Homo sapiens: one gene and its partners. The protein of the gene in region 3 interacts with the protein of the main gene of each other region in a pairwise test. Each region holds a gene or a part of one and is shown on either strand. Other genes may lie near its edges.

Region 1 (7,756 bases), on a different chromosome or scaffold from region 3:
GAGATTCTCCCACCTCAACCTCCCAAAGTGCTGAGATTATAGGCATGAGCCACCAAACCCGCCCTGGAGTTTATATTCTAATGGACAGAGACAATACTTAAATATACAAAATGATTATGGATTATGATGAATACTCTAAAGAAAATACACACAATGATGTATTAAAGGGAGATGCAGTGGGACAGGCCATTTCAGACAGAGTGGTCCAGGATGGCCTCTTGGAGAAGGTGCCCCCTGGAGCTGGGACTTGAAGGATGAGCAAAATACTGGGAAATAGCACTTGGGAAAGGAGTAACAAGTGCACAGAATCAACACATTTGCAGTGAGCAAGGAGGCTAGGTGCTGGAAAGAAGGGAGGGAGGAGAGAGGTGGGAAGGACATGGATCATGCAGGGCTTGAAGAGCCGGATTTAATACTAAGTGCAATAGGAAACCACTGGAGGGTTTTAAGCCAGAGAATGACATAATCTGAATTAAGATTTTATAACATCACTCTGGCTGCTATGTGTAGGATGGACGGTTAGGCGTCTGTTGCAATAATCCAGACAAGAAATCAATGATAGCTTGATTTAAGGTGGTGGCAGCAGAGAAGAGAGTGAAAGATTGGAGACATATTTTCGAAGCGGAGCTGACAGGTCATGCAATCAGACTGGAAATGGGGTCCAGGATGAGGACAAAGGAGACAACAAGAACGATGCTTGGGTTTTCTGTTTGGGCAACTGGATGAATAGTGCAACTATTTCCTGAGATAGGGAAGACGGGAGGAACAGATTTGTGCGGGTGGCAATCTTGAGATGCCTATTAGACATCTGAGTTTATATTGCAAGTAGGCAGATGAAGAGTCTGCACTGGAGGTATAAATTTGGCTGGAATTTAAAGCTACGGGGCTGGATACAAAGCCTAAGGAAGCCTAACCACAGAGCCGATATTTAGAGGACTCTATGGGATCCTGGAGGAGGGAGCAGCTAACTGACCACAGAAGTCAAGGAAAACATCATAGAGGAGAGAATGGTGAAGCCAGGTCTTGAAAGACAAGTAAGAGTTTGCCAGAGGAAGTGAAAAAACACCATCTGGGAAGAGGGAACAACATGTAACATGTTCAAAGGCCCTCAGTCCAGCAATAGCGGGAACCCTGTCTGTTTCAACTGTGTCACCTTAGGGCCTAGCACACACGTTCAATAAATATTTGCTGAACGAGTGGTGTGTTTGACAACTTGCAGGCAGCTTGGGAAAGCTGGAGGAAAAAGTTAGTGGTGGGCTTAGGACAGGTGGTGAGAGATGAAGCTCTAGTGTGGAAGATGAGAATAGACCATAGCACCAAAGGCCCCTCCTGGGGGAGAGGGAAGAATCATTAAAACATCTTCTGCCTGAGGGAGGGGCATAGTCAAACATGCATTTTTTTTCTTTTTTTTTTTTGAGATAGAGTCTTGCTCTGTCACCCAGGCTGGAGTGCAATGGCACAATCTCAGCTCACTGCAACCTCTGGCTCCCAGGGTCAAGTGATTCTCCTGCCCCAGCCTCCCGAGTAGCTGGGATTACAGGTGCGTACCACCATGCCCAGCTAATTTTTGTATTTTTAGTAGAGACGGGGTTTCAACATGTTGGTCAGGCTGGTCTCGAACTCCTGACCTTGTGATCCGCCCGCCTCAGCCTCCCAAAGTGCTGGGATTACAGGCGTGAGCCACTGCATTTTAAGAAGAGTCTTCAGGCTATGATATAGAAAGGGAGTGAATATGAGATTGGGGACGAGATTGAAAGCAGGGAGGAGAGACTGAAGATGGGGAGATTAGCTCAGGGGCTGCTGAGGGATGAAAAGGCCTCAGGGAGATGCTTTCTGGGACCCAGCAGCAATGTTTCCTGCGTGGGCAAAGAAGCCTGTACTCCAGGGGATATCTGAAGTAGTGGCTGGGATTGGACAAGGAAGATGGCCTGGAGCCAAGAAGTTATCCAATTTCCTGGGGAGGGGAGCTGTTCATATTAATAATATCTGATATGAAGTTTGCCCATCAAACCCTGCAGACAATGGGGGCTTTGGTATTAATTAAATTTCAAGAAATAAAGAAATGGCTATTCCTTGCACACCCAGACCCAGTAATACAAGGACTTGGGAAAGTGAGACACGGAAGGGGGATAAAGAGGATCACTTAGGAGAGAAGGTGGGAAGCGAGAGTTCTGTTTTGGACTTGCTGACCAGGGAGCACCCTGGGACGTCCAGGGAGAGGTTCGGCCGTAGGTCGCAGGGCTGGGCTTAGAAGCTTCAATGTGGAGGCCATGGGAGTGGACAGGGTGGCCAGGGAGTCTGAAAGCGGCGGCAGGATAAAGCGAGATCCGGAAGCGGGCAAGGGAGCGCTTCCCCCTTCCCCAGCCTGGGTCTGTCCCCACAGCCGCTCACAGCCCGGCCCGCAGGGAAGCGACCGAGGGGAGGCCCGGCGGGGGACGCGCTAGGAGGAGGTCCCCGAGCAGCGGGTATCCGAGAGCAGGTCCTGCTTTCCAGAGCTCGCCGAGTAGGGCAGGGAAAGCGAAGCCGAAACCCAGGCTGGGGTATCAGCAGCAGCGGATAACCGAACGACTGCAGCCGCGACAGGAGAAGCCCGGGGCGGTGGCGGGCCGCAGACCCCCGCCTCCGGGCCGCAGACCCCCGCCTCCGAGCTGCCGCCTACATTCCCCTAGGTGAGCGCGGAAGAGGATGGCGGAGGATGGTCTCCTAGACCCCCAAGAATCCCGTCCGGCGTCTCCGCCTGCCTTCCCCATCCAGCCCCCCGACCCTTCAGCACCCTCCACGCCACCTCCGAATCAGACCCCCGCCCTCCGGGCTCCGCCCCGGGACCCCTCCCCTCCCCTGGCTCCGGAGGGAGCCCGGTACCGTCTCCGGGGGAGATGGTCTCGATCTCCACGCCCATAGCGGTCCCACAGGCCCCGCCTCTGGGGGGTCCCTGCTGCTGCCCGACCCCGGCTCGGCTCCGGCCCCAGCCCCGCCGTCGCTCCGGCTCGCCTCCTCGCCGCCACTGCAGAGCCGGAGGAGGTGCGGCTGGAGTCGGGACCTGCGCGGGGAGGGGCCACTGGCAAGGGGGCGGCGGGGCGGAGCCGCGCGGAAAGGTGGGGTCGGCCGGGGCGGGGCCCGGGGGAAGGGACCCCGCCCGGCTGTTAGCGAGCCTGGCCCCGCCTGACGACATTAACCCACTGACCAGGGAGCGTGGTAAGCACAACCACATCCTCCATCCATCCATTCATTCGCGCATCCGTCCAATAGACATTTATTTAGCATCTAATCTGTAGTAAGCTCTGGGAAGTCAACCCAGTCCTACAGACTTGTGGGGGGTGGGGGGCAGAAGGGGCAAAGGCCGGCGATTAAACCATCATTTTATTTTTATTTTTATTTTAGACAGAGGATCTTGCTCTGTCGCCCAGGCTGGAGTCCAGTGGCGCGATCATAGCTCACAGCAACCTCGAACTCTTAGGCTCAAGCGATCCTTCTTCCTCAGCCTCCACCCAAGTAGCTGGGACTAGAGGCGCGAGCAACCACGCCCAGCTAATCTTTTATTTTTTATTTTTATTTTTTGTAGAAACGGGGTCTCGCTGTGTTGCTATCTAATGAAACCATCACTTTAATTAGATGCGCTCAGTGCCGTGCAGTTCAGAGCGTTGCGGAAGCACAGAAGAGGTTCCTACCCTCGCTAGGCGTCCTGGATCTGTAGGAGCAGAGCTGGGGGAGGGAGGGAGGACACCAGTAATTGCTGACTCTCCCCCATACCCCTAAACCCCTGTTCTCCATCTCGTGTAGTTCTGCTCGACGCACATTTATTGGGTACTCAATTTTCAAGGCAAAGAAATGCGCCCTGGGGATACCAATAGAATTAAGACAGGTTGGCTGTCTTCCAGGTACTAAGTCTGAGAGGGACGGGGACACACAGTTACTGCATGGAGTGATTAGTGCTGTGGAATGAATGAATGAATATGTAAATGAATTCTACTTTGAGTTCCTCCTCCACCAAAAAATACATTCAGGAATCTAGAAAAATATTTTTTGGAGGAGGTAATATTTGTTTAAAGGGTAATTGGGACTTTTAAAATTTTTTCCCCCTCATTATTACCTGCATTGTTCCAAAAATTGATGTGAGGCCAAGTATATCAATTTTTGGAACAATGGCTCACACCTGTAATCTCAACACTGTAGGAGACCGAGGCAGGAGGATTGCTTGAGCCTAGAAGTTCAAGACCAGCCTGGGTAACATAGCGAGATCCCGTCTCTCTCTCTCTCCTTTTTTTTTTTTTTTTTTTTGAGACAGAATCTTCACTCTGTCGCCAGGATGGAGTGCAGTGGCACAATCTCGGCTCACTGCAACCTCCGCCTCCCAGGTTCAAGCGATTCTCGTGCCTCAGTCTCCCAAGTAGCTGGGATTACAGGCGTGAGACACCAGCGTTCGGCTAATTTTTAAATTTTTAGTAGAGACAGGGTTTCACCATGTTGGCCAGGCTGGTCTCGAACTCCCGACCTCAGGTTATCCGCCCGCCTCAGCCTCCCAAAGTGCTGGGATTACAGGCATGCCATCTTTATTTTTAAAAAAAGAAAAGAAAAGAAAAAGAAAAACATAAAAACTGATGTGAAGATATGATTCTCCTGAGTGGCACTGGAAGATAGGCATGGGGAGAAAAGCCTGGCAAACTGGTCCAGAATGAGCCCCAAGGGTGTTCTTCCTCCATTTCCTCATCCCCACTCTCCCGGATGCTTAGGTCCCAGATGAGGTTGTCTGCATCCCTGAAGGTGTTCTGGCTGTGTTGTTAAAGAAAGATGATTGTCGACTGTACTGTGAGGGTCAGGACCTGGAATTCCTCATAGGTCTGAAGAAGCCTAAGGGACGCACTAAATCCATAGGCTGCGGCCAGAGCAGGCACGCTTAGGGTCGGGGTAGAACAGGGATTTGTAGCTGGGACAGGCCCATGCAGCGGCTTCAGCTCAATGCACAGTATTTTGTGTACAGATAAGAACATTTTCCTGAGAGATTTTATCAGATTTTAAAGAAGGTTAAAAAGCCGTGGTGATCCTAGGGCTCCTGGACTCCTTAGACAAGAGAACCGACGAGAAGTGGGGAAAGAGCTCAAGTGCTTAAGGGAGGGAAAATGTGGCGGGCTTGCGGTCGGTGGTTTTACGGGGACTACCACTCCCAGCGATCCGTGCGGCAGAGCCAGAGCTTATTGGCCAGTGGGACGAACCCTCTGCTAATGTGCATATTCAAAAGCCAATAGACGGGGCCATCTCGGAGCGTGCCTATCCTATCAGAGGACCACCCACCTATCAGAGGACCGATATCACCGCCCACCTATCAGAGGACTGAGGGCCGGTGCTTCCGGTGGCTGCCCAGAACTTCTTATGTGCGGCGGCGTGATGTTGGGCGGCCACAGAGAGATTGGTGTTTTTGTGAGGCAGTGAGACCTAAGGTATTTCATCTCCACTGCTGCCGGGCCTGGCGGGTGTGGGGAGGCTGTAGGGGGTCAGGAGGGAAGTGGATCGGCTCTTGGTGGGTAGGGGGCGGGAAGGAGGAGATTCAGGCGTGCAGAGAGGATGAGGAGAATGGGGCGGGCCGCGTGTGAGGGGTCGCGGGATGAGGATCGAGCTAGGGGTGGGTGTAAATGAGGGATTATGACCGTGACTCGTGAATAACACTCCTGGGAATATGTCCCAAGGAAGTCATCCAAAGTCAGGAAATGCTTTAAGCCTTAAGACCTCGGTCCGAGCTTTATTTATAGCGGGTAGCGGGATAAAGTTGGGTACAGCTAGGAGCAGTTCAGTACATTATGTCACTTCACTGAGTGTATGTGAAGTGGCCTCTAAAACTAATTTATTAAACTTTTAAATAACATAGGGAAATGCTAATATATAATGTTAGATGAAAACCGTGATACAAAGTTGCACAGTATAACTGAAAAAGTTTGACAGCCAAACTATGCATAGAAGAGTCTAGAGGGATTAGTCATAATTTTCTTTGGATGAATGTTTTTTCGTTAACTCTTCTTAATTTTTTTCTTGTGTATGATTTTTGTTTCCAAATAAGTGTAAAGAACTTGAAATCATTTTATAGTGGAAATACAATAAACTTGGAAAACAAGTTGGGGGAGGGATGTACTTTTGTTTAAACCTGCTGGAAATGCCAGTTCACCTGAATCCCTTGATTCTCGTCATGAGTTGTCTTTAAAGAAGATGAAAAACAGAATTAAATGGTTATATACTGAGCACCGGCTCTTAGTTTTCTGACCACCTCTCCGGAGACCTGAACTAATACAGTGGTCTTTTCCCTCCTAAAACACCCAGGGTTCTTGATTTCATGTTCTCCAAAAAACTTATACTCTGGAGATTGTGAAACAATAGGTATACAATTAGTTTCAGGCAAAATCAGTAGCGTTGGGGAATGCCTGAAGAGCATTTAAACCTTGGTCCTCCTGGCCCTCTGATCTTATACAGTGAGGTTCTCCACTACCTTGACTTTAATGATTAACCCTATGTCAGTGATTTCCAAATCCTTACCTCTGACTGCCTAAGGTACATTGGTACCATGTAGACATCTTACATGAAGCACATGTTAATTTCAATTTGTCACATACTACACACGTTCCTCCCCTACTGCCCCCACCCCCACCTCCCCAACAGGGTCTCACTCTGTCACCCAGGCTGGAATGCAGTGGTGTGATCATAGCTTACTGTAACCTTGAACTCCTGAGCTCAAATCCTCTCAGCCTCCATAGTAACTAGGACTGCAGGTGTGGGACGCTGCACCCAGCTAATTTTTATTTTTATTTTTATTATTTTTTATTTTCCTTTTTTATGGAACGCTTCACAAATTTGCAAGTCATCCCTGTGCAGGGGCCATGCTACGCTCTGTATCATTTCAGTCTTAGTATATGTGCTGCCAAAGTGAGCACCCACCTCATTTTTAAAAATTTTTCTGTAGAATTGGGGTCTCCCTGTGTTGCCTAGGCTGGTCTTGAAATACTGGCATCAAGTGATCCTCCCACCTCAGCCTCCCAAAGTGCTGGGATTACAGGTGTTAGCCACTGTGCCTGCCCTTCCTTTCCTTTCTTCCTTCCCTCCCCCTCCCCCTTCCTTCCTTCCTTCCTTCCTTCCTCTCTCTCTCTCTTTTTTTTTTTTTTTTTTTTGAGATGGAGTCTTGCTCTGTCACCCAGGCTGGAGTGCAGTGGCGCAAACTCGGCTCACTGCAACCTCCGCCAGCCGGGTTCAAGCGATTCTCCTGCTGCAGCCTCCCAAGTAGCTGGAACTACAGGCACACACCACCACGCCCAGCTAATATTGTATTTTTAGTAGAGACAGGGTTTCACCATGTTGGCCAGGGTGGTGTCGAACTCCTGACCTCAGATGATCCACCTGCCTCAGCCTCCCAAAGTGCTGGGATTACAGGCATGAGGCACCACACCCAGCCTGCCCTGCCTTCCTTGCCTTTGAAACATGCTCTGGTTAATGGTTCAGCAGTTTCTCAAGCTAAAAATCTGGGTGTTATCCTTAATTCTTTTTTCCTCCTCACTACTTATATCCTATCGATATCACTGTCTATTCCATCTGCCTTAAAAGCATCTCTTGAATATGGCCTTCTTTCTCTACTGAAATAGTTGCAAACTTGCTTCATTTTCACTTTGTGGCATTCAAATTACTTGTCAACTTTCTTCCTTCTCAGGTCCATTCTGCATATTGTTACTTGAATATATGCTGGTTCCCCCAAGATTCCAAATTCCTCAGCATGCCCTTTATG
Region 2 (7,023 bases), on a different chromosome or scaffold from region 3:
TCCATAGCTAGTCTAGCTGAACCATTTCCGAGCTACAAGGCAGTGAATGAAAGTAAAAACAAAGAAACACTGGTTAAATTTTAAAAATTTATTCTTTCTCTTTTGTTGCTGTTGATTTGTTCTTGAGATGGCTACAACACCAGACAGAACAGTGCCCTCATATCTGATGGCTGTGAAGGGCTGCACTCCTTTGAAACATTAAGATCTGCTTTGGGCTTCCCTCTTCGGCCTCACCCTCCCCTTAAAATCAAGTCATTTCCACACTTTTTAGTAACATACTAAATGACACATCATCCCTTGTTAGCCCTGTAAACATTTTTTCTCCACACACCCTCCCTCTTTTTTTCTCTCATGTCTGTGGGTGAATAATTCACTAAGAAAAAAACCTTAAAAAACAAAAACTTACACATTTATATCCTGCACTCCCCACCCACCCGCCCACCCCAGTTTTGGCTCTTCTCTCCAAGGCAGACAACAAACTGATGTGGATTGGAAGTGGACTGAGAGAATGAACGGGGTCAGGGTTCAGATATCCATAAATTCTGACCCTGGCAGGTCCCGAGCATCACCAATGTGACCACGATAGAAAGCAGAACAAGTTCCTTGCTTACTCCTCCTTGTCTAAACAACTCTAAAGGTGGGAAGAAACAGCTGGGGAAGGTAGAAGAAATTTCTACTCATTTGCATTTAAAAGGAGGGGAGAGAGAAAGAGAAGGAAGGGTAGGAGAGGAAAGAGAGGACAAAACAATAGAAAACCTGAACAAATGACCCTGACCCTCTTCTTCCAATTGCAGCTATTTAATTCATGTGAATCCCCACATTATCCCTAAGTAAATATTTTGTTTCACAGAAAGCTTGTCCTTTTGTTTTTCTGTGTACACGTGCGCACTGGCGCTTGTGCGTGTATGTGTGTGTGCGTGCATGTGTCATTTGCTACCAGGTGAATGTTTCAGTTCTGGTTTCTGTTTAGTCTTCCTTTTTTTTCTTTTTTCTTTACTTAAAATTATTTTTCCTTTTAGAAAGTTCACCAGGAAACCAGCTCCCCTCCCACCACGCCGGGCAGGCCACAGCCATCTTTTTAAAATCCGCGCTGATTTTCCCTCACACCCCCAAACAGGAACTCCTCAGGATGGCCTCAGAAGGCTGGAGTCTCTCCCTGTCTGGCGGGACACCCTGGTGGCGGTGAAGGCCCCTCTGCCACAACGGAGGTTTCTGATTGTGGGACACAGTCTGGTTTTTGTTTTCTTCCTGTCTTCTAATTAAAAAAGACATTCCTGACAAAAGAGATAAGACAGTCAATAACTGCACCAGAAAATAGAGCATTTAGTAAAATCAACCTTAAGGCAGAGGTTTCTATATTTCCTCAGGTACCTCATTCTGAAGTCTGCCAATAAGAACTCAGAAAAAATAAACAAATAAATAAAAGTCTGGCGTTTTAACTTGTGGGTTCAAGGGAGCTACTGCTTTAATGAGACACCGTCTGCAGTGTGCTTCCAATGCTGAGTGTGCTGTGGAAACAAGGGATGATGTGTCAGGAGGGCAAAGAGCCAGCAGGTCCAGGCCTCCCATTCCAAAGCAACCAGGGAAGCTTTGCCTCAGTCTGCTAAATCCCACAGGCTTCATGTCGATTTTATTTTGAAAGAAGGCTTTGCCTACTAATAACAGTTGAAAACAAAACAAAACAAAACACCAATTTAGATGCTATCGAAAGGATACTGTATTAAGCGGAGTGGTTCAAAGTGAGGACTCTGGTACCAGAATATCTACATGTGAATTCTGGCTCCACGAATAACTGTCAGGCAAATTGTTAAACATTGTTGAACCTCAATTTCCTCATTTGTAAAATGGGAAAAATAGTAACAAATCCAGAAAAGCAGATGAGGATTATCTTAGTTAATACATCTAAAACACTTAAAACAGTGCCCTGACACACAGTAAGGGCACAATAAAAGTTAACCATGAACACCTACAGCTGTCCATGAGCAACCTTATGAGGTGTATCAATGTCAGCTAACCCAGACACCATGCAAAACCAGGACATCCCAAATGATATTATTACTCATTAAAACAATCAAAGTTGAGAAATGATTTTGGGTGTGGCAAGGCACTGCTGAACATCACTTTTACCTATGAATGCATTTAACACAGAAACTACCAGTGAGTGCTACAGATTCATCAAGAATTGCCTCCTGGGAGAAGAAACTCACCTTGAGACATCAAAGGGTGGGCTTAGAGGAGAGCTACCTTTCTTCTCTCCATCAAGAAACTGGCACCCAAATTCTACTACCCACTCCTTTCAGCTAAGCTTCTTGCTTTGCTTCAGAACCAGGAGACGGAAAGCACGTGGAGAAAAGTGCTCATCGGGAGCCAAAGATGCTCCTCCTCTCCTGTAAGGGCCAAGCATCCCTAACAGCTGAAACTTTTTGAACGCTGATATGACCCTCAAGCGAATGAGCATTGGAGCATTTTGGATTTTGGATTTTTGGATTAGGAATGCTCAACTGGTGTGCATTCTGCAAATATTCCAAAATCCCAAAAAATCCAAAATTGAAAAACACTTCTGAAAGTGTTTTTTCCTCCGAAATCCCAAGCATTTCGGATAAGGGATATTCAATTCATACCTCCTGCCCTGGTCAAAACCTGGCACTTCAGCATTCAGGTCATAAAAGTGATAAGAATAAGCTCTTTGCTCATTACATCTGGAGGGTCAGTTTTAGGAGACTGGCACCACATATAACAGTCAACTTGAGGTTGTTTTCGCCAAAGTGGCCAGGTTAAAAATACTTATTTGTTTGTTGCCATGTACACTTACCATCTTAGAAGTGTCTGTAAGGGGAAGGGGGAAGAAAATGTTTCAATGCACTGTGTAACAGTTACTTTCTTATGGAGGTGAAAATGGTACCCCAAAGACACTGACAATTACTGGCTGCCCAGGCCCAAGAAAATCCGGGCCCTGTATATTCCAGCTGTTCACCACAGTTAAACTGCTGAGTCCTTCCCTGACTCTAGCTATAAGACTGGTCCCATGATAGGCATTAAAACCTATCCCCATTCCCAGGCATCCCCAACAGTCCGACAGTCCGGACAAAAGCTGGGAACTATGTATCCTCACCTGGGTGACAGGCACAGTGCAGGAGTGTGAGCTATCGAAACAACCTGGTGAAGTCTCGCAAGGCCCAGCAAACTTGTTTACATTCCTCAGCACTAGAAAAGAAAAGGTAGGTTGGTCCTTGACTGAGGAGAAAGACAGAATATGCTGAAAAACAACTGCAACATTGGGGCACACTGAGAACCGTCCCAACTCTGCTAGGAGCTCTCTCCATCGTCTCCTGAGCGATCCTGGCTTCAGATCTTTCTGTAATTCAGGGCAAAAATTATTATATATGAGAAAAGTTATAAGCTTGGTGGTCTTCAAAGGGTGTACTCTGGACACAAACTGCCCGAGTTTGAATCTTGGCTCCACTGTGCCCTTGAACAAGTTACCAATCTTTGTCTCAGTTTCCTCATCTATTAATATTATCTACTTCATAACACTGTTTAGAGGATTAAAATCGTCCACATACAGAGTGCTTATGAAAATAGAGCAGTGAACAAAATAGTATTCAATAAATGTAGGCTGCTACAACAACACTTGGTTGCTACGGCTCTCATAAGTTTCCTCATTCTCTTCCAAAGATAGATTTTGTTTACAAAGGCCGGTCTAGCAACTAAGTCTCCACCAGTCATTGATTTTCTAGTTGAACAGGCTGCTCAGGATTTCCTCCTGTGGGAGGAGGAGGGAGAGAGGAAAGGGTTAAAGCATGTAGAAAGAGAGACAAAGCAGGAGATGCCTATGTGATATGAATAGCCCAATATTCAACTGACCCTGTTTTTTCAAAAGCCCCCCGACCTCCCTTTGTCCAAAACTGTCACCAAGAAACCAGCTGATGCCAGCTTCATTCTACTGTATCTGTCTTCATAACAGTTTTTGCTAAATGAACATAAGGCTAAGCTAAAAGCTAAAGCAGTGGAGAAGGAAGCACTTCCTTTTTTTTTTTTTTTTTTTTTTTGATATGGAGTCTTGCTCATGTCATCCAGGCTGGAGTGCAATGGCACGATCTCAGCTCACTGCAACTTCCGCCTCCCAGGTTCAAGCGATTCTCCTGCCTCAGCCTCCCCAGTAGCTGGGATCACAGGTGCCCACCACCACGCCCGACTATTTTTTTGTATTTTTAGTAGAGATGTGGTTTCACCATGTTGGCCAGGCTGGTCTCGAACTCCTGACCTTGTGATCCGCCCGCCTCGGCCTCACAAAGTGCTGGGATTACAGGCATGAGCCACCGCGCCCAGCCAGGAAGCAATTCTTAATATGCTTGCCTTCCTGTAGCCCTCTCCCTGGCTCAACTAACTCAGATACCAGTGCCTACAGCCAAGGATTCAATGCAGATGAAAACACACTTTCCATCTCATAATGGTTAAACACCAGGGGAGGAAACTGCTCTAAGCGATCCAACAGAAAAGGTGAAAATAGAGCTATCCATTTAGGTTCCTACATCCAGATTTCCCCATCCATTGTAAGTTCTGAAACATCATTAAGAACCTTGACTTAGACTCCATGACTTGATTCAACAGAACATTCTAGAAACTTTCTTCTAGTCTCTCCATCCTAAAAATGTAATGAAAATAAGGCAGGTGGCCAGGCACAGTGGCTCATGCTTGTAATCCCAACACAGGGAGACCCCGTCTCTACAAATAATTTAAAACTTAGCTGGGTGTGGTGGTGCACACCTGTGGTCCCAGCTACTCACGAGGCTAAGGCAGGAGGATAACCTGAGCTGGGGAGGTTGAGGTTGCAGTGAGCCATGATTGTGCCACTGCACTCCAGGCTGGGCAACAGAGTGAGACCCTGTCTCAAAAAAAAGAAAAAAGAAAGAAAATGAGAAAGGTCTTTTGGCTTTATTGGAATTGCCATTACCTCTGTGGATTTAATAAGCTTCAATTTAAGTGTTACATTTCTCATTTTACTTCCAAATTAATACTGACTGTTAAGGAGGCAGCCAGGGTATGTGAGCCCATATCACTCATGCTCCCAATGTCAGGAAGGAGGAAGATCTGTAACCCAAGAGAAGTTGCTATGTGGTGTGTTATCACAAGGGACTAGGATAACAGAAAACCCTGAAAGTTAGGACAGTGCTGGAGACCGAGATTTTTTTGCTATCCTAATGTCTTACATGTTTTAAATTTTACCCTTCCTCAAGAGACTTCTGTTTTGTTTTGTTTTCAGAACAGATAGAAACAGGGTCTCATTGTGTTGCCCAGGCTGCTCGAACCTCTGGGCTCAAGCTATCGTCCTGCCTCAGCCTCCAAAGTGCTGTGATTACAGGCGTGAGTCACTGTGCCCAGCAGAGACTTTGGAAATGATAACTTCACAGCCTCCTTTGTGGCACATGAGAAAAAGTATTGAAACTGAAATGCAAGTGTGGGAGAACTTTAGTGCGATAGGGTGAAATGAGGGACAGGTGACACTGTCAACTTGGCTTCTGCCCCAATCCTATCTGCAAGTGCTTTGGTGTCAAACACTTCAGCCAAATGTTTAACTGAAGTGTCCTTGGTGGGGAGCCCATAGAAATGGATCAAAAAGCTCCTTGAGGCCGGGCGCGGTGGCTCACACCTGTAATCGCAGCACTTTGGGAGGCCAAGGCGGGTAGATCACCTGAGGTCAGGAGTTTGAGACCAGCCTGGCCAACATGGTGAAATCCATCTCCACTAAAAAGACAAAAATTAGCCGTGTGTGGTGGTGGGCACCTGTGATCCCAGCTACTCGGGAGGCTGAGGCTGGAGGATCGCTTGAACCCAGGGGGTGGAGGTTGCAGTGAGCTGAGATCACACCACCGCACTTCAGCCTGGGCGACAGAGCAAGACTCCGTCTCAAAAAAACGAAAAAGCTCCATGAATGTTAGAACTATAGTTATGTGCTACAATGATGTTTTGGTCAATGATGGACTGCATGTATGACAGTGATCCTATGAGTATAATAGAGATGAACAACTGCATGTTGCGTTACTCACATGCTTGTGGTGATGCTGGTATAAACAAACCTACTGCACTGCCAGTCATATAAAAGGACAACACAAACAATTATCTACAGTATACAATAATTGATCATAAGCAACTATATTACTGGGTTATGTATTTACTATACTACACTTTTTATCATTAATTTAGAGTATATTCCTTCTACTTACAAAAAAAAAAAATTTACTGTAAAACAGCCTCAGGCAGGTCCTTCGGGAGGGATTCCAGAAGAAGACATTGTTATCCTAGGAGATGGCAACTCCATGTGTGTTACTGCCCTTGAAGACCTTCTAAGTGGGACAAGATGTAAAAAGGTGGAAGACAGTGATATTGATGATCTTGACCCTGTGTAGGTCTAGGCTAATATGTGTTTGTGTCTTAGCTTTTAACAAAAAAGTTTAAAAGCTAAAAAAAAAAAATAAAGTAATTTTAAGAATAGAAAAAAGCTTATAAAGATATAAAGAAAAAATTTTTTAATGAGCTGTACAATTTGTGTTTTAAGCTAGGTGTTATTACAAAGGAGTCCAAGAGTTAAAAAAAATTTAGTTTATAAAGTAAAAAAGTTACAGTAAGCAAGAGTTAATTTATTATTATTATTATTATTATTATTTTGAGACAGAGTCTCACTCTGTCGCCCAGGCTGGAGTGCGGTGGCACAATCTCGGCCCACTGCAACCTCTGTCTCCCAGGTTCAAGCGATTCTCCAGCCTCAGCCTCCTGAGTAGCTGGGATTACAAGTGCCCACCACCACGCCTGGCTAATTTTTTAAATTTTTAGTAGAGATGGGGTTTCACCATGTTGGCCAGGCTGGTCTCAAACTCCTGACCTCAAGTGATCTGCCTGCCTCGGCCTCCCAAAGTGCTGGGATTACAGGCATGAGCCACCGCGCCTGGCCAAGGGTTAATTTATTATTGATGAAAAAAATTTTTTTATAAATTTAGTGTAGCCTAAGTATACAGTATCTATAAA
Region 3 (7,023 bases):
AAAAGCCTAAATGCAAATCCTTCTGGAGTACAATTACTGCTTAATCTGTTATCAACTTTTCCTACTCCAGTCTGCAGGAGAACATTCTAGCTCTCTTCTGAGAATTGGTTTTGTCTGAGAGAAAAGCAGGAATGCTGTAAATGCTTCCTGCTGCTTTCTCAGGTTAGGGTGGTTTATGACAGCTGTTGTTCAGTTCATGGACACATGGTCTAGTACGCTGATCTTCATTGTAATCTTTTTGTACATTCTCACCTTTAAAAAATCTGATAAAAAGACCACAGAGCCATGAAAGGTTCATAGAAGTCAGTAGAATTTTATTCAATGAAATCACTCGAAAGCTGTGTCATCTATGTTTACCCTTAAATTATAATTTTTTACATAAAAATTCAAAATTTGGGTGAAGATTAATATTCCTTGAAAATTTCCTTAGAATATACTGATTTGCTACTACATTTCATTTTTCCTACATTCAGCTAGATGACCACTTCATTTGGTGTCTCTCAGCCTTCTGCTGAGACATTTGAGTCCGAGTATATCCTCAGCATTAACAGTAAACCTACATAAAGAGGGCAGCCCAACAGCAAAACAAGAGTTGTATACCCTCGTGAGCAAAGAATAATAACAATAGGAATATTAATGTCAGTGATCAGAATAGTTATACTGCTACCATTTAATTTCTATCAAATATCATTCTAGTCACTCTGTACCCATTAATCCTCACAATATCTTTATTAAGTTGGTATGTTTATTCTCATTTTACAAATATGGAAACTGAGGGTCAGAGGGAAGAGGTAACTTGCTCAGAGCATCAAGACAGTGGTGAGAGAACCCATCATTAAAACAAGGACTATCTGGGTACCCCTTGAGGCTTCTGTTATCAAAAGGGCTTGGCCTCAATTCAACAACTATTTATCAATGATATCTCCATTCCTGGCCTTGGTTTGGGTTTAGGAATGCAATGATGAATACACAGTTCTTGCCCATGGAGACATTATACTGCAGTAGAGGAGACACAAATAGAAATATATTTTCAAAACAATGTGGTTGACAGGAGAGGTAAATACAATCTATTATGTAGGTTTTGAGAGGGAAGGCAAGCCCAGAATAGGGCCTAGGAAGGTTTGCTGTGGAGCATGATGCTGTACACTGAATCTTAGGAAAAAGTAAGAAGTCGGGAAAAGAAGTAGGGGAAGAGACTATTTATTCTAGGTAAGAAACATAAACAACATGAACAGCATAAACAGGCATGTGAGCAAGTGTGATGTTTTTAGCAAATCAAAAGAAGCTGAGCATCCATGTATGCTCAAGTTCAAGCTGGGGAGTAGCAGGAGCTGGGGTGCTTGCCTGTATCCCAGAAATGATAACATCAAAGTGTTACAAGGACAGGTTCGTATTAAAAAAAAAAAAAAAAAGCAGCCATGTGAAGGCTGGATTGGAGGGTACAGTTTAGAGAAGCTTTTAGGAGTCTTAGTTGTTAACTATATTGTTCTCAGCAACATTTTCCCAGAAGAGACCATTGTTTTGCTCACAGAGAACAATTAACTTGCCATTCTCACCAAGTGCAAATTGTTATGTACTAAATGAGACCAGAGTAGGACACACTGCCCTTGACACTGGCCAGCACTATGCAGGCATACATACAGTACCTCTTCTGAAGAAATAAAGATGGACGCACTGTCAGCAGAAATCACAAATTTATTAACTCTTAAATATATCAATCAGTCCTTTACCATTATGGCAAGAAATATATACAGTGTCCCATGGTAAACTGCAGTGTTTCAAAATGATAGAAGATAATAAATGTGTAATTCATTTGTGGTGGAGAGAACAAATCACAATTTCCTCACATCTTAGTGCGGAAGACAAACTTGATCTACAGTAATACTTCAACACCACATGCTAAGTTAAAAGTGTAAAAAAAACACTCTACATCTATTTTTTTTTCTTTAAATACATGTATGCCACGTATAGCTGCTTCACAAAAGGGTAAAAGAAATTAAAAAGAGAAAAATGAGGCCATTATTTTTTCACAGATCTCATTGGCAGGTTAACATGGCTCAATATATTTACTGTATATATTTATTTTAAATATATATGTTGTTTTAAATTGTGTAATAATTATCAGAAAAGCTTCAACCCATCTACCATACATCCACTAGCAATAATATCTAAGATGATTAGTAATCAACACAGAGAGGTGAGATGAGAGAAAAGAGGAAGGGTTGTTTTTGTTATTTTGTTTTTCTTTTTTGCTTCTGCTTTAAAAATAGGCTTCTGAGGACTGTGAATTACTATCGTTAAAATAACAATGATGGAGATTCCATGCACTGTAAAGCACTTCAGGGAAGAGAACAAAAATCACAGGAATTGAATCAACAAAGGAAAAATGAGAAGCACAAAGAAAACCTAGGACATTTCCCTTTTTGTTTTAAACTGGGAAATTCTAACTCCTTGGAGGAAGACAATGATACTCTGATTCAAGAGAGAAGCTAAAAAAGCACAAGTCACAAAGATCAAGTTCAAAACACTTATGAGAATGGCAAACATTTGTAAGCCTCTCTAACACTAGAAAACTAGCTAGTGATGATGCAGAAGTGACCCTTTCATTCCCCAAGGCGGAGGTGAGTGCGTTTGCATAAAACCCCCTCTGCTATCAAGTTGGTATCCTCCTGGCAACTGTCCCAATCAGTAAGACGTTGCAGTCACAGGAGGAACTTGCTTTTATCCTAACTTTAAACAATGCAAATACCTCCAACATAGTTAGGATACCTAAGTCCAAACTAGAGCTTAAGCAGAATTATAAACCTTTAAAATCTTGACAACATTTTTGTGGGCCCTGAAGATGATCAAAAGTGCTAGTATAGCTACCTTCAAAAGACTTTTATTTCCCTTTTACATTCATTATGCAAATTTCACTTCTATTCTTTTCTCACACACTACTAGCCAGCCTCCCCAAAAAAGGAAAAGGGAAAAAAGTAAGAAAAGAATGGAACAAAAGAAAAATAAGAAAGCAAACGAAAGGAACAAAGAAACAGGATAAAGAAAAGAGATCACAGATTTGAGAAAGAAAAACAATTCAATTCAGCAAATTCACCAAAACAATGTGAATATATCCTAAAGTGATTAAACTCAGAAATGATGTGAATTTTTCCAGTTTACACAGTTTGACCAAAAACAGCATGGCTTTATGTGGTAGCAAACCAACTGATTCTTGCTTCTACTTTCATAAGTGATTTTGCCCACATATCATCCCACTTTAATTGTTAATCAGCAAAACTTTCAATGAAAAATCATCCATTTTAACCAGGATCACACCAGGAAACTGAAGGTGTATTTTTTTTTTACCTTAAAAAAAAAAAAAAAAACCAAACAAACCAAAACAGATTAACAGCAAAGAGTTCTAAAAAATTTACATTTCTCTTACAACTGTCATTCAGAGAACAATAGTTCTTAAGTCTGTTAAATCTTGGCATTAACAGAGAAACTTGATGAAGAGTTGTACTTGGAATATTGTGGATTTTTTTTTTTGTCTAATCTCCCCCTATTGTTTTGCCAACAGTAATTTAAGTTTGTGTGGAACATCCCCGTAGTTGAAGTGTAAACAATGTATAGGAAGGAATATATGATAAGATGATGCATCACATATGCATTACATGTAGGACCTTCACAACTTCATGCACTCAGAAACATGCATGAAGAGGAGGAGAGGACGGCCCAGGGTCACCATCCAGGTGCCTTGAGAACAGAGAATGCAGAAGTGGCACTGTTGAAATTTAGCTGAAAGGAGAAAGGGGGAGGAAGAAATAAATTATATTGTTTTACAAAATATCATCAAATTGCTTTGCCATAGATTTGACTAGGCTACAGTTTTATAACTTGGCTAACAAATAGATTGAAAACACTATGTATAAGAGATGTTTGCTTGTGATCATTACAAGAAGAAACATACAATGTTACACAAAGAGAGTATTAAATTAGAAGATCAGTATTAATTATTTTTTCACACAAAGCTAAGCTAAAAATAAAGAGACAGAGACACAGTCTTCAGTCACATTATTAAATCTAAGTATACATCTTAAGCATTCCTGTTTACTGGACAAATTAGTAAATGAATATAATCCTTTTGTTGAAATAGACTTAAAATTCAAGTTCATCCTTAGCTTCTGTTATTATTGTTAGATTCCTTGGGAAATGAAACCTAGAAGTCAATTTAACAAGGAATATAGTCTCGAAAGTAGAGAGAACATGATTACTCTCTTTAATTGGAGATCTCCTTTGCTGAAAGCAACAGCTGGGAGCACTATTTGTTAAAAGCTCTGATAAGGTTTAGTTCTCTGAATGAGGCAAATATTCACAACAGCACCATACATATCTGAATGCTTGTAACCCAAGTCTAAGAAACAATTAATTAAAAACAACAACAAAAGCATGAAGTTAATTACAGTCAACTTTCAATTATCCTCTGGAATTACCCATTTTGTGAGTTTTAAATTTCAGCTTGACTTCCTCCTGTGGCCTGTCCTCATGGTCAAGTACCATTATACTCAGTCAGGCACAGCAAATTGATTTACACATTCGCCATAGCCAGCTGCTTACAGAACTGCAACCTCTTGAAAGAATGGTTAAGACACCAAAGGATTCTAAAGCTTAATATAAATTAAGTCCGGATAATTGAGAGTTATCTGAACTGACCCAGACATAATTTACTTTTGATGTGAAAACTTCAGGATTCTAACATGACACAATCCACATGTTGGAAAAAATTCTTTTCAGTGTTTATTACCTTTAAAATAAGGATTATGCTACCAAATAGGGCTGAATGTTAGATTCAAAAGCTCATGCAAAATTGCTATGAATTTTCAAAGACCTTGTGCGTTTTTCATTGAATATTATGCAATAAAAAATATCCTCAAAAGGAAGGAAAACAGCCATGCAGCTTTTCATTCAGCTCCAGTCACAAAGTATCACGGAGCAGGATGTTACTTACAAGACCCATATGTGAATGGTTTTCAGGCCTTAGATGTTTTGCCACAAAGAGGTGCCTCCTGAGAAGTTTTCTTTCCCATTTGGAATACAGGGTGGCCTATTAAGAGAAGCCCCATTTAAGCCACCTGGCATAAAATGAAGTTTTCTTGAATAGGCTTCATCCCATAAACACTTCAGGGAACTGCAAAAAAACCTAAACCCCTGGTACTGTATGAATGTAACCCCTTCTATATTAACTGGCGATTTGTGCTGTACCTCTTTGGGGTGAAAAACACACAAAAACGGGTGTCTTCATTATCTTCATATTCCTCTTGTGTTTTTCTCTTAATTACATAGCTATGGTTTTGGGAATAAATTTCAGCCTATTGTTTGGTTTGGTTTGATTTTTGTCCCTGTTGACCCACTTTTTACAAATCTAACAGTGATATATAATTATTAAGGCTATACAGAAGGCCTCTGAAAACCACTGTGGTATGCTACCAAACTAAGAAATCATGATGGATTCTCTGGAGTGAGTTGAATGGCTGTTTGTATGAACCCCCATTCCAAATCTCAAATATTAACAGGTGATCCTGGTGAGAGAATTTGGAAAGAGATCAACAGTGGACCCAACTTCTACACTGAGTTTAAACTCTTCTTGTTTTCATCTCACTCCACTTTACCAATAAGCCTATTTTCAATTATTCCTCTTTAGTTGTAACCGGCCTTCCTTACCAATAATGTTCTATCATATTAAACTAAATCCTGATATTGTACTTTTCTTCATGATGCTCATTTAGCTTGGACTATCCATCCTCCTTTGCTTTTTCAGTCTATGTCTCTAAATTCTACTCATCATTTAAGATTTTGTCCAAAATTCTATCTTATATACAAAGTGTACTTCCAAACTGTTATAAACAGTTTACTACACTGTTCATTAACTCTACTGTATTCTGAAGTTGATGATAAACTTTATTATATCATTTTTTTCTTTAGAATCAATGATTGGCTAAATGAGAATACATGTTTCTTGAAAGCAATATCTTGTACTTTGTGTTGAATCTGGCACAGATTAAGCACCTAGGTGATTCACAATAAATATGTGCCTAATCGCTGACTGGAAAAGCAAATGATATCTGAGGTAGAGTGGTGAGGTGAGAATGACATTGCACTACCTGACAATGGCCTTTTAAATGCTGTCTCTCTAACTGAGCTTTAGGGGATCATCTATGAAATGAAACTCCTGATAATATATTGGCCATTTTAGAAACTCCTCCCTATGTTTTCCTCTGATATCCCCTTCTTCTGTCAATTGAGAAGATGAAGTCACAAATATTTTGCCTTATTATACAAGTCCTCTAGATTTAACCCTGTGAGATTTTGATCACGTAGTCTCTCGTCCTGTCTAAACCTATCATATACTGCTCTATAGCAAGTTTCAACCCACAAATGGCTGATCTGATTGATCTTTCCAGAGAATCATAAACCTTTCCCGTGAAGGCATTTATTTTCATCAGTGTAACCAACTACTAGCGTTAAATAACATATACCATGCTATTAACAATGGAATAAGTAGAAGGAGCTGACCATGGGTGTATTAACAAAGAAGCTGACAGCCTGGAAATATTTACTTGATGGGTACTGTTGGTGACCCCGAGCGATGAAAATGAACATTCTGCCACTTTCCATCCCGGCGGTGCCACACACGAGTCTCTTCTGACTGCATTGTCTTTGGCATTCCACTGCCATCCATGTACTGTGTGAGCCTAATATATGCTATGCAGGCGGCATCATCCCCTACCAGATGTACATGAGGGTTTAGAATAATAGTGTGGATTGGTTTATTGCTTTTGGACAAAGCTGAAAGAGAAAAACATGAAAAGCAAAATTTAGTTTCTATGTAAAGGAAACTAAAACCAGTAATAACTTCAGTTAGGACCAATGAATGAAATGACATTTATTCACTCACTAATTAATTAGTTAATTAATCTACTATTTGTACTAATTGGGTACTGGGCACTGTACAAAGCAAAAAAAGAATGAAAGTGGATACAGTCT
Region 4 (7,023 bases), on a different chromosome or scaffold from region 3:
AGAAAGCAGGGAAGGAAAAAAAGGGAAAAAATGCTAAGGGGGTCTGCAAGGCCCAGTTTTCTGGCCAACTGGGAAGTAACTACACCCCCACCCTCTCTAGGGGAGCCCCTTCCACCTTGACCATGTTCCCAGACTATTCCGGAAGGTTCTCTAGAATTGCTGACCCAGTCTAGTAGGATCTCTGGGCTCACTGGGTACTATGATGAGCAGGAAGTCCCAGGGAGATGGAATAGGGAACAGGGGACACACCACCTTTCCCTTCCACCAAGCCTTGGTTTTCCTTTTTGCTGGCAAAAACCTGTGTCCTCTGTCATCATCAATTAAACGCCCCTGCCCCAGGCCTTGAGTTAAAACTGGGGCCTGAAACGTGAGAAGGGGGTTTCAGAAGCACAGAGAAACGGACTGCCCCTGAAGCTGCTTACAGAGAGAGATGCTCGGGGTAGGTGCCAGTAGCTCTGGCTACACCCAGCTCTCTTCAGGAAAAAGGTCCCAACCCAGTGTCTTCAAAAGCCACTGGAGCACACAGGAAGGAGAAACGGTGACCTCTGGCCAGCCCCAGCCACTCCAGTGGTTCTCACCCTGCGAGCTAGGCTAGGATAAGGACGGAGACACCACCAGCTGAGGCTGCAACAAAGCTGGCAGGGAGTGTGTGGAGTGGGTCCCAAGCATGTGCGTGCTGACAGGGCGACTCCCAAGGTCACCATCCTCCTCCCCCCGCCCCGAGATCCCGCCTGAGGCCCCCCACCCACCCAGCCCTCCCCAGTCACCGCCAATTCCGGCAAAACAGCAGAAGCTTCTTAAACTCTAGATGCAGGTTACACGGAAGGCCTTACGGGTTAACTCAGGGGTTCACTAATTCTACTGTCTCCATGCAGTCGGGGAAATGGTGGAGCGGCTGGCCCAGCCTCGCCGGTTATGGCACCCGCACATGCGTGTGGCCATGTGTGTCCGTGTGAGTGTACGCGTCCCTACGAGGGCCCCCCTCCTGACCTGCTCCTCCCTCACCTCATCCGAAGCCGGATTCGGTCAGCTGTGTAATTCCTCCCTCCCACGTAGCTGGCCCAAGTGGGCTGCCAGAGATGACCCTATTAGAGCCCAGGGGCCCTTGCCCACCAGAAGTCCCCCCCACCTCCCCGTTTGTAGGATGAGCATGGTGGCCCCACCCACCTGCCAGGAGGGCAAGTGGACGGATGGACGGACGGACGGACGGACGGGGAAGGCATCTGGATTTGAGTCCCACTCACTCCTCCCTAACCCCCCTCAACCAGGGCACAGCGACTTCCGGATGCAGCGCACTCCCCAGTAATCCCTCCGACGACGACGCAGACAGAAACCTGCAGGGGGAGGAGGAAGGTCATGGCCTGGGACCTTTCGGCCCCCAAGACAGTGCTGACTTGCCAGCTGCAGTCTCCTTACCTGGCAGTCTCCATGATCACCTAGACCCCATAGAAAGCCGCCAGCCTCTCCTTGAGCAGCGGCGGGAATTGCTCAGAGAACTGCTGCCAGTTATCTTCCCCAACTTGGTCTTTGAAGCCGTGGAGAATCTGTGGGGAGGGTGGTGGTGAGGGGTAGGCAGGGGCAGAACAAGGGGAGTGCGCCTCTTCCCCCATCCCCAGGCCCCATTGTTACCAGATGGTCTCACCCCTGCCTGCTCCCGGAACTAGATCAGGGCCCAGACAGAGCCTCACCTTATAAAACATGTCCCGAAGGTCATCCTTCGGGCTCACCCAGGAGGCTACAGCATCGCAGAAGAAAATAAAGTCCTGAAACGTGACGGATCCCAGGTGAGGGGCCGCCCGAGCCCAGCGCCCGCGCCTGCCCTCAGAGCCCAGCTGCCCCAACCTGCACAACGCCCCCCGGGTTGACACCGATCATCATGCAGATGCCGCGGAAGGCTGAGTCCTTCTCCTCGTTGTCCCTGATGTTCCTGAGGGACGTGCACCTGTGGGAAGGTGAGCAGCTGGAGGTCAGAGGGCAGGCTGGGCATGCATCTGTGGAGGGCTGGGTCACTGGGGATCAGTGAGTGGGCCTGGGACATGCATCTGTGGGGGTGGGGCAGGGCAGGGAGTCAGTAGGCAGATGGGGCTGGAAATGCACAGGCGAGGGAGGGGGTTGGGCCAGTCCCGCCCACCACACAGCAGGCTTGACACGTGGACACACACCAAGGCCGGATGAACTGCTGCAGCATGGGTGCCACCTCCTGGGGGCACACGTAGCCCAAGCGGCCGATGGTGATGGCTGGAATGGCAGAGGGACTCGTCAGGCGACCTGCAACCCCGAGCGGCCCCGGGACGGTACGTGGCGGGGCCTCTGGCACAAGGCACCAAGCCCCGCCCCATGAGCCCCAAGGGAATGGCTACTGCAGCCACCCTGGTCCCCCAAGCTTGGCCCAGCCAGGGGTCCTCCTCATCACACCTGAGTCACTTCCCAGGTCTCTCTGCATCTATCTTTCTTTCTTTCCTTTCCCTTTCCTTTTTGTTTTTTTTTGTTTTGTTTTGTTTTTGAGATGGAGTCTTGCTCTGTTGCCCAGGCTGGAGTGCAGTGGCATGATCTTGGCTCATTGCAACCTGCCTCAGCCTCCCGAGTAGCTGGGATTGCAGGCACGTGCCATTACCCCCGGCTAATTTTTGTATTTTTTAGTAGAGATGGGGTTTCACCATGTTGGCCAGGCTGGTCTCGAACTCCTGACTTCAGGTGATCTGCCTCCCAAAGTGCTGAGATTACAGGCATGAGCCACTGCACCCAGCCTGAGGCTGCATCTTTCTTGGGGCTTCTCCCAGTGACCCCTTCCAGGTACTTCCAGACACCCTCCTTGGTTCCTTGACAAGGCTCTTTCTGATGCCCTTCCCAGCCCAGAACCCCACCTCCAGAAGGCAGGCAGGGGTGCAGGCAGCAGCCGGGCCAGGTGCCCACCTGTGTTTTCCAGCAGTGTCTTGGGTGTGTTGGGTCGGTTAATGATTTCCACCAGGTTGTTGAGGACCATCTGCACATAAGGCTGCATCTCTGCCCCTGGGGGAGCACCCAGTCAGAGCCCTGCACAGCCCCCGCCACCCACAGGGGCCAGGGGGCCGCCCCACCTCACTCACTACTCGCCCCAGTTCCAACTAGAGACTGGCCAACCACTACCAGTGAGGAAACAAAAGACCTTCTCCGGCTAATCCCCACCCAGAATCCCTGGCCAACCAGGGACAGACCCACACCCTCCAAACAACAGAGGCTTCTCTGGAGTCGCTAAGGTGACAACACGCTGCCCAAGTCAAAGGAAAAAAAAAGCCAAAGTCACCCAACCAATCCGAATGAGTCTTTTAGCCAACTACACAAAACGGTCCAATCAGAACAGCCCTCCTATCCCTCCTCTTTAGAGAAGCCAATCACAAATGACCTTTCTGCTTGGCTCCACCCCTGACGACCCCCAAGAGACTTGCCTTGAAGGAAGCTGTCAGTCAGAGCTAGGCTCCCGCCCCCAGGTTGAGAACAGGCTAATGGGGGGCGCGTGTTGCCACTTGCAGGGCACTCACCCATCTGCATGCAGATTTCACCAATGGCCCAGGTGGCGTTGTTGCAGACGGAGATGAACTCTGGGTTCAGGTTGGTGCCCAGAATGGGCATGAACTCGGCTGGTGGGGAGAAACAGGGGTGCTGAGAAGGAGGGCCAGCCAGGGTAAGCTGCAGGACCTAGTCCAGCAGGCCCCATCAGACAGTACGAATACATCCCAATGTGGTCACAGTCATCCCCGGGTATTGCTCTCCATCACTTGAGGCCGGGGCTGGGGTCATGGGTTAGGGACAAGGCGAGTGTCGTACCGATACAGGGCTTGACATGGATGAAGCAGGCTTTGGTGAGGTCTCCCAGGAGGGCAAAGGAGCTCTGCCGGACCTCAGGCATCGAGTCCTGGGGATTCAAGTAAGATCAGTGTGGCTAGGCTCCCCTCCTTCTAACCAGGACAGCTCAGGGGGCACAGTCCCTGGTGCATGTCCAGCCTCTGCCACTTTCCAGTTCTAGAGCTCCTAGCTGTTCCTTAACCTCCCTAGCCTCCAGCCCACATCTGCAAATGGGAGATGGCAGTGCCCCAACGGTCATCCCTCAGTGTCCGTGGGGGATTCTTTCCAGGTCCCTGCAGATATAAAAATCCACGGATGTGCAAGTCCTTGATATAAAGTGGCACAGTGTTAGGGCCAGGCGCAGTGGTTCATGCCTGTAATCTCCAGCACTTTGGCAGGCCGAGGCAGGCAGATCACTTGAGGTCAGGAGTTTGAGACCAGCCTGGCCAACATGGCAAAACCCTGTCTTTACTAAAAATACAATAAAATTAGCCAGGCATAGTGGGACACGCCTGTAGTCCCAGCTTCTTGAGAGGCTAAGGCAGGAGAACTGCTTGAACCCTGGAGGTGAAGGTTGCAGTGAGCCGAGATCACACCATTGCACTCCAGCCTGGGTGACAGAGTGAGACTCTGTCTCAAAAAACAGGTGGGGGGCGGTGGGGGGGGCATAGTGTTTGCATATGCACCTATGCACATTCTCCTGTACACTTAGCATCATCTCTAAATCACTTATATCTAATACAATGTCAACAGTATGGGAATAGTTGTTATACTGTATTGTTTAGGGAATAATAACAAGAACAAACTTCTGTATGCGTTCAGTACAGATGTAATTTTTCCTCTGAGTATTTTCAATCTGAGGTTACTTGAATCTTGGGATGTAGAACCCACAGATACAGAGAGCCAACTGTGCTGGGGCAGGGACTTGGGCTTTCACATTTTCTATTTTCTTTTCTTTCTTTTTTTTTGAAGACAGAGTCTCAGTTTATTGCCCAGGCTGGAGTGCAGTGGCATGATCTCAGCTCACTGCAACCTCTGCCTCCTGGGTTCAAGCAATTCTCCTGCCTCAGCCTTCCAAGTAGCTGGGATTACAGGCGCCTACCACCATGCCTGGCTAATTTTTGTATTTTTCGTAGAGACAGGATTTCACCGTGTTGGCCAAGCTGCTCTCAAACTCCTGACCTCAAGTGATTCACCTGCCACAGCCTCCCAAAGTGCTGGATTATAGGCGTGAGCACCTGGCCTCACATTTTCTATTTTCAATACTGTTTGCTTTAAAAAAAATTTTTTTTTTTAATTTTAGAACTGGGGTTTCACTATGTTGCCCAGGCTGGTCTCAAACTCCTGGGCTCAAGCAATCCTGCCTCGGCCTCCAGGATTACTCTTTAAAATAATTAGAACAGCACCTTTTCCCTGATTTCCTTTGGGCACAACCAGGCCCTGACTCCCCACCAGGGGCAGCCCACGCAGGCTGCTGGGTGTCATCACTGTCCAGGGTCCCCACCCACCTGCATGCACTGGAACAGCAATGTCATGATGTTGCTGCGGGCCACCAGCTGCTCCACGTGACCACCCAGGCCCTCGGCCAGGCCGCTGAGCAGATCCAGTGCTACGATCATGAAGTCCTTGTCGGGAGCCTCATACTGCTCAGGGTGCTGGGTGTACATCTAGACACAGATGCCGACAGGGGCACGGGTAAGTGGAGCAGGCCCGAGGCAGGCCAATGCAGAAGCACAGGTGACGGGCCTAGGGTTGCTCACCATGGCCTGAGCCAGTGTCTTCTGCACCAGGGTGACACAGCGCTGGTAGACGGGCTCACAGTAAGGCAGGAAGCCACTCTGCAGGGCGGTGGCCACCGATGACAGACACTGGCAGGGAGGAAGGCAGGTGGGGAGAACTCAGGCAGGGTGGGCAGGATGGGTTTCGGGTGAGGGGCAGGAGCCCACTCACCTCCAGCAGGGGGAAGAGGTCCTTGTCTTCGTCCTTGAGCTCATTCCACTTCTGGATCAGTGGGGGCATCAGCTTCTGGATGTATTCCTGGAGAGGGAGCACGAAATGGGCGCTCCCTGGGTCGGGGTGGCAGACTGTGACTCAGGTACCTGTTGCCCGAGTGATGAGGCCTGAGCGCCTCACCGTGGCTCATGGGACCCTGAAAGGCCTGCCATCTGGCCAGACCTCGAGGCCTTCATTCTTCTCACCTGTCCAAGCACCGCCCGCCCCACCCCACCCCCCGGGAGCCTGGGTTACCACCTCCTGGTTCCCGAAGCACAGCACTTACCACGCTGTCTCATAACTGTCTTTCTCCCCCACTAGACTGGGAGCAGGGCGAGGGCGGGGCCGGGTCTGTCTGTCTGCCTGTCGAGGTCACGGCCACGTCCCTGGCGTGCAACACGGGGTTGCCACCAGGTCACTGGATGCCCAGGGGCACGGGGATCGGGAGGCGGGAGCCGCTCTGGGGTCTCACCGGCTGGTTGAGGTGGTGGCCTACAGAGTCGGCCAGGGTGCCAATGGCGTCATAGAGGATGAGCAGGTTCTTGTGCTGGTATTTCCCAAAGGCAAAGACAAGGGTGTCCAGGATGTAGCTGAGGTAGGGCACCAGCTCCGTGCAGGCCTCTTCCTCCAGGGTGGCAAAAGCACTGGTGGGAGGGAGGATGAAGCGGGGGCTCAGTGGACCATGGCAGGTGACACTGGGCCATGGGCAGTTGGGGAGGGCAACTCAGGATCAGCCAGTACGAATACGCGATAAATCAGTTCCACATCAACAGTCACAGGTGTCATCACTTCCCAGAGGGTGGCCGGGGGAGAGTGGGGGCTGTGGGATCAGGGGTCCAGGGTCACCTGCAGGCCGCCTCCTGTACCCTCTTGTTGCCATCCAGGATGCGTTTGAGCAGCTCTGTCATCAGGGGCTTGAGGTGCATGTCGGGTGGCTGGCTGACCACCCAGTGGGCATAGCGGCTCAGCGTCCAGCAGGCGATGGAGCGGACCAAGGCCTTCTTATCCGACAGGCACTGGATCAGGTGCGGGATCAGCTCAGGCAGGTAGGGCACCATGCCCTGCATGCAGCCTACAAGGAAAGGGAACCAAGAGGGGGCAGTTTGATTGGGCCCAGCCACACCCACCGTATGGAGAGAAGAGTCAGCCGCACACAACATATAGGGAAACTGAGGCTTAGAGTTTAAATCACTGGCCCAGACTCATTTC

The links.
Region 1: the proteins of CAMK2D (region 3) and FKBP1B interact in binary tests that used the Homo sapiens proteins (3 or more experiments, as listed by UniProt).
Region 2: the proteins of CAMK2D (region 3) and TNPO3 interact in binary tests that used the Homo sapiens proteins (3 or more experiments, as listed by UniProt).
Region 4: the proteins of CAMK2D (region 3) and TNPO2 interact in binary tests that used the Homo sapiens proteins (3 or more experiments, as listed by UniProt).

The regions. Positions count from the first base shown.
Region 1 is NC_000002.12:24,044,993-24,052,748, reverse strand, and holds the start of FKBP1B (peptidyl-prolyl cis-trans isomerase FKBP1B), read right to left. Parts: upstream 3,009-7,756; 5' UTR 2,900-3,008; coding exon 2,863-2,899; intron 1-2,862. UniProt on the Homo sapiens protein: Has the potential to contribute to the immunosuppressive and toxic effects of FK506 and rapamycin. PPIases accelerate the folding of proteins. It catalyzes the cis-trans isomerization of proline imidic peptide bonds in oligopeptides.
Region 2 is NC_000007.14:128,954,112-128,961,134, forward strand, and holds the end of TNPO3 (transportin-3), read right to left. Parts: intron 3,356-7,023; exon of another isoform or gene 3,205-3,355; coding exon 3,144-3,204; 3' UTR 3,113-3,143; intron 1,275-3,112; coding exon of another isoform or gene 1,256-1,274; 3' UTR 74-1,255; downstream 1-73. UniProt on the Homo sapiens protein: Importin, which transports target proteins into the nucleus. Specifically mediates the nuclear import of splicing factor serine/arginine (SR) proteins, such as RBM4, SFRS1 and SFRS2, by recognizing phosphorylated SR domains.
Region 3 is NC_000004.12:113,450,739-113,457,761, forward strand, and holds the end of CAMK2D (calcium/calmodulin-dependent protein kinase type II subunit delta), read right to left. Parts: intron 6,826-7,023; coding exon 6,597-6,825; coding exon of another isoform or gene 6,593-6,596; exon of another isoform or gene 6,450-6,592; intron 5,084-6,449; coding exon 5,017-5,083; 3' UTR 4,988-5,016; intron 3,778-4,987; coding exon of another isoform or gene 3,774-3,777; 3' UTR 294-3,773; downstream 1-293. UniProt on the Homo sapiens protein: Calcium/calmodulin-dependent protein kinase involved in the regulation of Ca(2+) homeostatis and excitation-contraction coupling (ECC) in heart by targeting ion channels, transporters and accessory proteins involved in Ca(2+) influx into the myocyte, Ca(2+) release from the sarcoplasmic reticulum (SR), SR Ca(2+) uptake and Na(+) and K(+) channel transport.
Region 4 is NC_000019.10:12,699,910-12,706,932, forward strand, and holds part of TNPO2 (transportin-2), read right to left. Parts: intron 6,887-7,023; coding exon 6,661-6,886; intron 6,610-6,660; exon of another isoform or gene 6,540-6,609; intron 6,459-6,539; coding exon 6,287-6,458; intron 5,860-6,286; coding exon 5,773-5,859; intron 5,691-5,772; coding exon 5,583-5,690; intron 5,490-5,582; coding exon 5,331-5,489; intron 3,893-5,330; coding exon 3,805-3,892; intron 3,763-3,804; exon of another isoform or gene 3,688-3,762; intron 3,618-3,687; coding exon 3,519-3,617; intron 3,010-3,518; coding exon 2,914-3,009; intron 2,269-2,913; coding exon 2,163-2,268; intron 1,943-2,162; coding exon 1,843-1,942; intron 1,764-1,842; coding exon 1,689-1,763; intron 1,545-1,688; coding exon 1,437-1,544; 3' UTR 1,417-1,436; intron 1,335-1,416; 3' UTR 1-1,334. UniProt on the Homo sapiens protein: Probably functions in nuclear protein import as nuclear transport receptor. Serves as receptor for nuclear localization signals (NLS) in cargo substrates.